Linked DNA regions of Homo sapiens. The protein of the gene in region 3 interacts with the protein of the main gene of each other region in a pairwise test. Each region holds a gene or a part of one and is shown on either strand. Other genes may lie near its edges.

Region 1 (3,745 bases), on a different chromosome or scaffold from region 3:
TAACCGTTTTCCCCAAACACGCGGCCCTGAGCCTCCGGTGCTTTGCGAAAGCCGTCCCCTCCGGCTGGAATGTTCTTTGTCTCTCTGGTAAATGTCTATTCATCATTCAAGACCACCCTTCGCCCCTCCCCTTAATTACTTCCTCCCCTGTGCGCCCTCAAATTCTTGTACTCATTCAAGCAGTATTTATTAGGGGCCAGCTTTGTGGCCGGCACCGTGGCGGGCTCTGGGGCTACAAAAGGTGAATAATACTTGGGCTCTGCCTCTGAGGGCCTTACACGTTAGGGAGGAGTGGGTCAACTGCCACAAACGTCGCTAGGAAATTAAAAGGAAAATTTTACAAAGTGGCAGTTCTTGTCTGTCTTCCCCTCCAGATGGCCCGTGTGTTGTTTTCGGGCCGGGGCTATTTCTCATTTATTTCGCACCCCCGGTTCTTAGTGCCCTGTAGGTGCTAAATCAGCATTTGTTTCATGAGTGCTTTTTCTGGGGGCAACCAGACCCCTGCAGAAGTGTACCTGTGTTGTGCCAGAGGTTCTGATGATAGGCTTATAGGCGGTAGTTTCCTCAGTGTCCGTGGGTCGCCCCCGGTCCCGGGTTGGATGCCCCGCGGTCCAGCACCGAACCTTTCGGGGTGCAGAGTTGCAGAGCCGCGGAGGGCCCGGGCCGTGCGCAGCCGAAGGGAGGCCTGCAGCGCCCCCTCTGGATGCAGCGGGCACCGGCCGGCCGCCCCGCTCACCCGCTCGCACCCCACGTTTGTTCACCAGTATTTCAGTTTACGGTCAGAAAATGAACACAGACACTTCGTGATACTCTACACTTTTCAAAGGCGTAAGGGATGCCTTTTAAAGGATTATGGATTAGAAAAATTCCTCCCTCTTTCTTGTGCCTCTGGGCCCTTGCATTGTGATTCTATCTTACGTAAATAAAGGGGGCTTTGCTCTCCTAATTGTGCCCACTGTTCTGTGCAGCGCGGACCGGCGCATGCAGCGAGCGGGGCTGCGAGGGCGCTGCTGTGGCCAGGCGTCTGGCATGCTGACCACGTCGCGCTGCTGTAAAGGAAACCTGCCCCGCGCAGCGGCGGTGGCTGGAGCGGGAGAAACCGGACTTTGTGCAACTTTGGCCATAGTGGCCATCCCATGAATCTGTTTACTAGCTTGGTGGTGGGTCCAACAGAGCTTGTTGCTCCCTAGCCGCTTGCTCGTGCCCTTGGTGGTTACCGGTAGTTAAGCTTAGGGCGCATAGGGCCCTCGTGGCTCGCCACCTCTCACGGTTCAGTACCCACGCTTCGAACGAGGGATGGGAGCAGGCGCCACGGCCGGCACCCCAGAGCCCTGCTGCCCCTTAGTTCGAGCGGCCATCCTCCTGTGGGGCTTGTGGGCAGCCTGTGGGGTTTGTGGGCGGCCTGTGGGGTTTGTGGGTGGTCTAAGGAAAGAGTTGGGGCACTCAGGGGTCTGCTGTTTTTGCCCGTGGCCTTAACTCATCAGGGGAGGGTTTCTGCAGCAGAATCTCGGGCTCAGGGTTGGCGGTTAACGAGGGAGCAGCGGGGTCTTGGGGAGGGGGCTCGACACCCCTGAAGGTGCCCCCTAAAGGAGCCACTGTTAGAGGGGCACCCCATCTTTGTGGCCATGGCGGTGGTAGAGCGGCTGGGAGGGGCTCTGCGGCGAGCAAGGGAGCAGGCGGTAGGGGTTCTGCGGCGATGGGCGGGCTAGGGGCGGGGCGCGGGTGGGCTCTAAAAGTCGGTGCCCACTCGCTCCGCGCTGCCGCGGCAACCAGCACACCCCGGCACCTCCTCTGCGGCAGCTGCGCCTCGCAAGCGCAGTGCCGCAGCGCACGCCGGAGTGGCTGTAGCTGCCCGGCGCGGCGCCGCCCTGCGCGGGCTGTGGGCTGCGGGCTGCGCCCCCGCTGCTGGCCAGCTCTGCACGGCTGCGGGCTCTGCGGCGCCCGGTGCTCTGCAACGCTGCGGCGGGCGGCATGGGATAACGCGGCCATGGTGCGCCGAGATCGCCTCCGCAGGTGAGTGTGCGGTGGGAACGAGGGGGTGTGGCTGGCGGCCCTGGGACTAGGGCGCAGGCGAGCGGAGGACTGTGTGCCCGTGTCCGAGCTGGGGCTGCCTCTGGGCGAAAACTCTACCGACAGGCGGCACGCATTCCGCGCCCGCTCTGCCTACTTGAGGAGGGGGTGTCACTCCTGCCCGCAATGGAATGTTCAGAACGCGGGACCTCCTTGGGTTAGGATTTCTAGACCCCGGGATCGTCGTGGTGAGATTTAGGATTTCTGGACCCCAGCGTCATCTTGATATGACTTAGGATCCATAATGACCCTGGTCTCACCCTGATGCGAATTGGGATTTTTAGATCCTGGCATCACCCTGGTGCGATTTAGGATTTTTATACTCAGTCATTGCTGCAGCATGATTTAGGATTTCTAACCCCCAGCATCGCCCTGGTTTGATTTAGGATATTTAGACTCCGGCTTCCCTCTGGTGCGATTCAGGATTCTTAGACTCCGCCGTTGCCGTGGCGCGATTTAGGATTTATAGATCCCGGCAAAGCCCTGGTGCGATGTAGGATTTTTAGAACCCCAGCATCGCTCTGGTGCGACTTAAAGGATAGGCCCCAGCATCGCCCTGGTGCGATGTAGGATTTTTAGAACCCCGGTGTCTCCGTGGCGCACCTTAGGATTTCAAGAACGGGATAATCGCAGTGCCGAGATCGCCGCGGTGCAGCTTAGGATTTCAAGACCCAGGTATCACGGTGGCGGGAGTCACCGCAGTGACTAGAACTCGCAGTGCCCGTCAGCCGCCTTAAGTATTTTTCAGATTTCAGTAACAAGCGCGAGTGAGAACGGCGATGTGACCAAACTGTCATGTTGCGCAGGGATTGTTCACCTTGGTTTCGCGGGTTTTCAAAGTGGTTCGTCTCGCGGCGACGCCATCAGGTGGGCGGCAGGTTGGGTGGTATTATTACGGGAGTGTGTTTTTCTGTTTACAAGATGAAGAAATCAAGGCTCAGAAATTTTTGGAAAGTTTGTTACTGGAGTTTGCTTATTGTCTCCGCTCATGGCTCATCAAATAGTTGGGATTTTGGCCAAAAAATGTTTGCTTAACCCATTTTGCCTACTGACGGCTAGGTTGCTTCACTTCTAAAAATCCTAAAAGTTCATGGGGGCATTTTTACTGAGGTAATAAGACAAAAAATGGCCCCCTGAGAGGTTGCCTCTTTGCTTTCTTGGAGTAAGAGGAGGAGGGTGTGGAGGGGGGTGTCCAGGAGTGGAGTATGTTGGTCGATAGCCTCGTTTTTTAACCCCCCACTTTCCCTGAGCAGCGGCGGGGAAGCCTCCCCATTTGCCGCTCTGGCCGCCCCTCCCGGGGCTCTCTGCTGAGTCACTGCAGAGATTCAGCTGCTGGAACCCCGGGGATGAATGCGATGAGAAGCACTGGGGGAAAGGAGTAATGAAATCTGCACATGAAAATGTATACATTGAAGTACAGGACAGATAGGGCTGGGCAAATGATCGTCAAAACCTAATGGTTTTTGTCATCTGACCTTTCAAGGAGATACTGGGATACAGCCTGCTATTGTTGGGTGAAAACTGTGATATAACCATCATGTTCTGGCACTTTTTTGAACCATTTCTAGTATTACCTTGAGAAGTAGGACCAAATGGTTCTATCCGTCTTATGGACAGGTACTTTGGAGAAAAAAAGAAATGACTGCCCTAATAATGCCTAAAAAATAGCCTGGGG
Region 2 (3,745 bases), on a different chromosome or scaffold from region 3:
ACACTCAGTGAGCACAGAGACTTCACTGATACTTGCCCCTAAGTGGGGAGTCTCTTAGTACATCCCCCAGCACTGGTAGAGTGGTAAGGGATTTTCTTGTGTTTTTCCCTAACCTCCAGCTGAAGCAGAACCTAGACTATGGGAACTTGGGTTGACTGGTTAACTACTAATACTGCCCATACCCCAGCTATAGCAGCAGCCATCTGTGCTGAGGACTTCCCCCAGCGGCACTGTGGTTCAGTAGAAAGGTCACCAGACCAAGCCTGCTAACCAGCTGTTGGACCTTGGACAAAACATTTAACATCTCTGTGCTTTAGTTTTCTACATTTTATAGACATAAACACAGATGCTGGACAAGATGTCTTCTAAAATTTTTTTCCAGTTTTACAACTGAGCATTTGATAGGAGCACAAGTTTCATTTTCCCCAGGAGTAGGATGGCTGAGTGCGCTGTCATCACCACCCTATGGGATTTCTCTCATTTGTCCCAACAGGCCAGCACTTATGGGCTTTGTGTCTGCACCTCACCCCACGGGCCCTGTGAAACCTTTCCAGCAAATGGCTTAGATGTCTGTTCTGCTCCCTCCCCTAGGAAACATATTTTAGACTCAATTCTTCCCTCCTGCAAGTCTGAACTTTAGGTCTCCAGCTGAAGTGGGCAAGGATGGTGGGCTCCAGAAGCAGCAGCTCTGGTGTGGTAGGAGCCAGAAGAGGAGGTGAATGGGGGAAGGATGTCCCTATGTTCTCACACCCCAGGACCTCCAGGACTCTCTAGCCAGGAAACAGGGTCGAGCTGGCATTGCATGATCTGGTTCAGCTCAATTCTCAGCTTCAGCAGTCTTTCTGCCACCCCTGATCACACTGGGTTGGATTTGTGGGGGAGGGAGTCAAGGCCTGCAGACATGAACATACATGCTTAGGTCGGTCAAGTCAACAATGAACGGCAGAGTGGGATGGGAATCCAGGTGTCCGGAGTCCCAGCCCAATACTTTTTCCACCCCAAGCAGAAGATTCTGAAAGGACCCCTGGCCCTCCGGCCCAACACGGGGTCCTGTTTAAAGACACTGGTGATTGCCAGGCTCCAGGGGTGAAGTCTGGTCCTGAGAAGGGTGGCAGGGAGGGGACAAAGTTTGGGGCAGTGCTGGGATGGGAAAGACATCTGCACCTGGAGGCCATTCTTCCTAGACTTTGGGGGGGTGGAGGTGGGGGTAGATGAGGCCTGCAAAAGGAAGAGATGATGCCAGTAACCCATCCTCTCTGAGGTGGTGGAGAGAGAGGTTTGGGTTTTTCCTTCCTCTTCTTTCTTTGCCAGCCGGGCCTCCAGGCCCCCAGGCCTGAAAGTCAGCCGCCACCCCCGACCCCCATCATGAATGTGTCAGTGGGTCCGCCTTGGGCCAACAGGCTCCCTCAAACCCACATTTCTAGCCTAACACAGACCCTCCTCCGACGCCCCGAGAATACCCATCAGTCTTTACTGATTCCCTGGCATACCCTCCTCCCTACAACGCCCCCTGCAGACGCGGCGTCCCCGGGGTGTCCCTCCCCAGGATAAATTCCCCCAAAGTGCCGTCAGCCCAGAAAACTCGGCAGTGCGGCTCCCGCGCGTGGGGCACCCCGGGCCACCCTTCCACCCCGCGGGGGGACCCCGCCGCCCAGGTGCCCTCGACCCCGAGACTCACCCAGAAGAGCATGTTGAAGAAGAAGAGCAGGTATTTCACCAGCGGGCTGACGAAGGAGAACTCCTCCCCGGAGGCGGCCGGCGCCCGGGGTCTCCGCGCCATGGCCCCGCCGCCGCCACCGCCCCCGGGGGCCTATTTCCCAGCGGCTGCCGGCCGGCCTGTGTGCCCCGCGCCCGGGGGCATGAGCCGAGCCGCGCCGCGCAGGAGCCCGGCCGGCGGGGGAGCCTGCGCTGCGGCGGGAGGCGCCCGAGCCGGGGGGCCGGGAGCGGCGCGGGCCGGGGAACCGCGCCTGGAGCTGCTGGAGCCGCGGTGGGCAGCGCGAGCGGACGAGACTCACCCGCGGCCGCAGGACCAGCCCGGCCAGCCAGGCGCCCAGGAAACCCGGCCCGCCCCCGGCCGCTCATTGGCGCGACGGCTGGAGCCCGACTTCCCATTGGCTCGTGGCTGATGTCACTAAGTATCCAGCCATCCCTCTCCACCGAGAGTCGGGGGAGACACCTGTTCTGTGAGGGATAACTTGTTAAAGGGTCAGCGGTTCTGCCTCTCCCCTACCCCTAAGGGAAAGCATCCAGGCTGCAGCTGCTCAAAGGAACAAGAGTGAGGAGAAGGAATGCACAGTGCATCCCACACCCACGTCCTCCGCCCAGCTGCTGTGCACATATGCAAACACACATACATTAAAATCAACAAGTACGCACACCGTGTGTTGAGCAATGCGCCGAAAGCTCTGGGAACGCGGGAGAACAGAAACAATCCCTGGGGGATGACAATAAAATCAGGGAGACAAAACTAACCTACACATAACAATTAGACCAAGGGTAGATGCAATCTTGTTTAGTAACTATACATTTTAAATGCTTATTTCAGAAGCTCTACAACCCAACAGTGGAAATTTGGAAACATCACCGCCAATCCCGCCATCCTAATTCATTGCTGTCTCAATTCCCGCCCCCGCAGCCCCTCTTCCCTTGGTCTACTTGCAGACACCGTTTTTAACATGCTGATCCGGCACACACAGGTTGAGTGCAGCGTAGCTGGCGAATATATTATGCTGGCTACCCTAACTAATACAAGTTGAACCTCGGGGAGGGAATCTGATTCCACCATAATTAGCTGCGTGAAAGCTGCAAGCTACTTAATCTCTCGGAGCCTCAGTTTGTTTAATGTTAAATGGGAGAGTCCTGACCTAGATGGCGATTTGAGGATTAAATGAGATAATGCATGTAGCTCACTTAGCACATGGCTGGCACATGGAAGGCTCATCAAAGGCATTACAGTATTTCGTTTTAGCAGAATTAAGAATCCAGTGTGGAAATATGATAACCGCACAAATAATTATAATACGTTTGGTAGAAGGTTAGTGAAGATAGCGTGGCAAGTGAAATTAGGGGAGGATGGGATTTAGAATAGTAGAGACGGAGGGGAAACATAATCCAGGTGGATTAAAAAAAAAGGGGGTGAACCAAAGCCTGGAGGTGCAAAAGCACGCCATGTGTTTCGTGCAAAATAAGCAGACTGCTGTGGCTGGAGCACAGGGTATGCTTGGAATAGCAGTGGGACATAATGCTGACCGATGCCGTTACATGTGGAATTGTGTTAAAACTGCGGAAGTAATTGAATATCAGATTGGGGAGTTAGTGCTTAATTGACTTGGAAATAAGAGTTTTGGAGAAAAGGATGATGGAAAACCCATGGTTTTCAGTTGGAGTGGGAAAGAGGCTGGAGAGAGAAAGATTTGTTAGAAGCATGCTGCTCATCATCCAGATAATCAGAAATCAGGAACTGATTTAGGAGTAATAGACAGAATAATAGATGGTTAGGAGAGGATAGAAGGGAAGGCATTGGAAAGATAGAATCTCTAGGGCTAGGCTGTGGTGACAAGCAGGCATAACAGGAGCACCAAGAGTGGAGGTTAAAGAAGGCAGTCACAGCCAGGTTACTGGGAGATTACTGGCCCTTAACAGGTTAAGTGACACTGGAGATCAGTTTTAGTATAAAGCAGGTAGGGTGGGCAGAAGTCATTTTCCAAGAGGTTAATGAGTGAATAGGTAGGTGCCATTTTCAGAT
Region 3 (3,745 bases):
TTTTAAGAACCTTTATGTTTTCAACCACTCATCCATAGTAGAAAAGTTCTGCAACCCTAGACTGCTGGCTTGAAGGAAAACCTTTGCAGGATTTGATATGGATTTCAACAAAGAACCAGCCTCTGCGAGGCTGGAGAGAGCTGCGGAGCTGCCATGCCTGAAGTGCAGATGGCTGAACCACAAGTCTTTAGGTTTCCGGAGTTGTTATTGTGGTGACCTAGAGTGTCAGAGCCAGGAGAGCAAGAAAGAGGAGCCAAACTGAGCCCTGAGTTTTCGACCACCCGGGCTCCCACAGCCTGGAACAGACTTCACCTAGCACGCTCAGTGCCAGCCTTCGGCAGGACGCTATCAACGCCCGACTGGTTTCCTGCTCTCATCCTGGCGCCTGGGCCCAGTTGCCATAGTGTGGATCCCATGACTCCTCAGGGAACCCCTGGACTCAGGCACGCGAGAAGAAGACAGCGCTTTGTGGAGAGAATTGACCAGGGACAGTTATGCTCGAGCACACAGGACTTGGGCCTGTATGCGTCCAGCATGGGCCCCAGGATGTCCCTTCTAAGCGAGGGTCGAGGGGTGCTCGCCCAGACGGGATCCCCGGGTCTCTGCTTTGTTAGCAGCTTTGGTGGCTGGTTCAGGAGGTCAGAGAAATAAAACGACTTGTGAACACAATGGAAATGACAGGCGCTCTGGCCAGGCGCGGGGAAGGCAGCCGCCTCGGGAAGCCGACCTCAGCCCTTTCCTCTCTCTCCCTCCCTCCGTCTCCCCCAGAGCCCCGGAGCTCCGAGGTGCACTTGAAGTTCATCTCCACTGCCAGGAGAACGCAGCGCAAACTGTCAAAGGGCTCCCAATCCTTAGGGCGTCCTCCCTGTCTGCAATAGCTTTTTGTAGAAAGGAAATCATCAGAACGATTCTGACTTTCTCCTCCTTTCTTTATTAGAAAAAGAGAAACCGCCTCCTAATACGCCTCAGAGAGAACCAATCTCGCGCTTCCGGGTCACCCGCTACCGCGAAGATTCTCTGGGGGCGAGGGGGGGCATTGGTTTGAAGCCCCTTAAAACGAGGGCCCTGCAGGCGATGCCTTCTTTCCTACTCGGATTTGTAAAGCCGAGATTGCTTAGTTGGAAACCCTGTTCTCCCCTCCCAGGCGCACACAGATCCCCCTTACACGCAAGCAGCGGGCGCTTCCACGCCTCCGCGGGCCAAGGTCACCAAATGCCCTGATTCCATCCCCCACCCGCCATCAATCCTGCCGACTCTGGCCGCTCTGCCTCATTCTCTTCCAAGAAGTTTCCATTCGTTTTATTTTTTTTTCCCCAGCCCGAGGTCCTCAGTAGACTCCAGCGTGGATTTTAATTGCCTCAATCAGCAGTCATTCTCCCCAGCCGTCACTCAGAGCCTGGACGGTGGGTCCCGCGATCTAGCCCTTGGCTACGCAGGAACGGTGCGCCCCCGGGTACGGCGCGGTTCAGCAGGCAGGCGTCAGGTTCTACCAAGGCGCTGAAATGAGCCCATCAGCGGGTAGGAGCCCTTCCCCCGCCGTCCCCTCCCCAGGCTCGTGAACGGCGCCTGATGCCCGCCCGGGGCGCGAGCTCTCGAGGTCGCAGTGACCTCAGCACCTGCTTGGAGGAAAACGGCGCGGGAACCCCGCTTCCTTCCCCTCAGCTGGAGCCAGACCTCAAACAAAACCCCAATCGATGCACACAGAAAACTCCTCTGGGCCACGCTTCCCGCCTCGCCGAGGTCTCCCCAGTCTGCCCCTCGCTGACGCTGGCGCGCAGCGGCTGTGGCAGCACCCGGGACAGCGGCCGCCCGCACTTCCCGCCTCTGGCTCGCCCGAGGACGCGCTGGCACGCCTCCCACCCCCTCACTCTGACTCCAGCTGGCGTGCATGGTCTGCCTCGCATCCTCACGACTCAGCTCCCTCCCTCTCTCGTGTTTTTTTCCTCCGCCGCCCCCTCATTCATCCCCACTGGGCTCCCTTTCCCTCAAATGCTCTGGGGCTCTCCGCGCTTTCCTGAGTCCGGGCTCCGAGGACCCTTAGGTAGTCCCGGTCTCTTTTAAAGCTCCCCGGCTTCCAAAGGGTTGCCACGTCCCTAAACCCTGTCTCCAGCTCGCATACACACACGCACAGACACGCACGTTTTCTGTTCCTGCGTGACACCCGCCCTCGCCGCTCGGCCCCGCCGGTCCCCGCGCGGTGCCCTCCTCCCGCCACACGGGCACGCACGCGCGCGCAGGGCCAAGCCCGAGGCAGCTCGCCCGCAGCTCGCACTCGCAGGCGACCTGCTCCAGTCTCCAAAGCCGATGGCATCTCCGGGCTCTGGCTTTTGGTCTTTCGGGTCGGAAGATGGCTCTGGGGATTCCGAGAATCCCGGCACAGGTAGGAAGGAGAACGGGGGCCTGCGGCGGGCGAGTTTTGCGGTGGTCTGGGGTTTGCGGAACTACGGAGAAGACGAAGGAGGTTTTTCCACCTGCAACAGGAAACTTCTTCGGGCGCTTCTCCCTGCTTTTGGGCTAAGTCCTTGACGGCCCAAGAGCTCAAGACCTCTACAGCCTCTTGTACCCTGGGAAGACGCCCAAATAGTCTCAGGCCCGTTCCACAGAAGGTTGGAAGAGCCCCCCAAAGACCGCGGTGTCTCGGGGACATGGAATTCCGTGGTCCTGGGGCGCTGCTAAGATCCGGGTGTCTGGACCCTGGGGTGGGACGGAGTGACCGTGAAGATAGAAAAAAAAAATGGGAAAGGTGAGAGATTTCTTTATCTAGAAAGACAGTCTGCGAAAAAATGGATAGCTTCAGTGTTTAGGAAAACTCGTCCAAGGTAGGCAGGGAGAGGAATTTGCCTGAGCCGATTGGCACCTGGAAGGGCAGCGGTGTGGGCTTCTCCTCGGGAAACAGATAAAGGAAATGAGGGCTGGCCCGGGCCGCCAGCCTCCCGCTTGCCTTCTGCACCTGCCGGCCTCACCGAGTCCTGAGCGGCCCCCAGGAGGAAGGCGGCCCCTCCTAGGACCCCGGACTGATTGATTTTCACATAGAACGAAATTTCACACGTCCGTCTGTTGTTCTCTTTCTGCCTCGCTGTCTGCCTGCCTATTCTTCCTTGCAGCGCGAGCCTGGTGCCAAGTGGCTCAGAAGTTCACGGGCGGCATCGGAAACAAACTGTGCGGTGAGTGCCCAGGGACCGGGGCGGCCAAGGTCGGCCCGCGGGGTCCAAGCAGTCTTCTCACCTCCGCATCCCAGTCAGCGGAGTCGGGGTTTCCTGGCTGCGGGTAGGCGGGAGCGAGGGAGCCGGGCCCGGCGGAGGATTGACGAGGCCCGCGTTCGGTGTCCTTACCCAGCCCTGCTCTACGGAGACGCCGAGAAGCCGGCGGAGAGCGGCGGGAGCCAACCCCCGCGGGCCGCCGCCCGGAAGGCCGCCTGCGCCTGCGACCAGAAGCCCTGCAGCTGCTCCAAAGTGGATGTCAACTACGCGTTTCTCCATGCAACAGGTAAAGACTCAGCGGGGAGCCCCGGGGCGCCCCTGCCCCTCTCTCTGCCCCGCCCACCGCGGCCGGTGCGGGTCCGGCGCTGAGAGCCGGACAGGGGCGTCGAGGTGGCAGCGGAGGCGGGACCTGCCAGAATCTTCAGATAAAAGCGAGAAATGCGGGACCTGCCCGCTGGGTCCAAGCCCCCGAACCTGGCCTCGGAGCTCCAAGAGGGCTCTGAGGCCGTGGCGCTCTTCCCCCAGCGCGGCCCTTGGGATGGCGG

What was found.
Region 1: the proteins of GAD2 (region 3) and MEST interact in binary tests that used the Homo sapiens proteins (3 or more experiments, as listed by UniProt).
Region 2: the proteins of GAD2 (region 3) and TSPAN33 interact in binary tests that used the Homo sapiens proteins (3 or more experiments, as listed by UniProt).

Annotation. Positions count from the first base shown.
Region 1 is NC_000007.14:130,490,327-130,494,071, forward strand, and holds the start of MEST (mesoderm-specific transcript homolog protein), read left to right. Parts: upstream 1-1,758; 5' UTR 1,759-1,987; coding exon 1,988-2,013; intron 2,014-2,875; exon of another isoform or gene 2,876-2,937; intron 2,938-3,745.
Region 2 is NC_000007.14:129,143,016-129,146,760, reverse strand, and holds the start of TSPAN33 (tetraspanin-33), read right to left. Parts: upstream 2,055-3,745; 5' UTR 1,781-2,054; coding exon 1,679-1,780; intron 1-1,678. UniProt on the Homo sapiens protein: Part of TspanC8 subgroup, composed of 6 members that interact with the transmembrane metalloprotease ADAM10.
Region 3 is NC_000010.11:26,214,506-26,218,250, forward strand, and holds the start of GAD2 (glutamate decarboxylase 2), read left to right. Parts: upstream 1-2,268; 5' UTR 2,269-2,304; coding exon 2,305-2,380; intron 2,381-3,104; coding exon 3,105-3,164; intron 3,165-3,336; coding exon 3,337-3,486; intron 3,487-3,745. UniProt on the Homo sapiens protein: Catalyzes the production of GABA.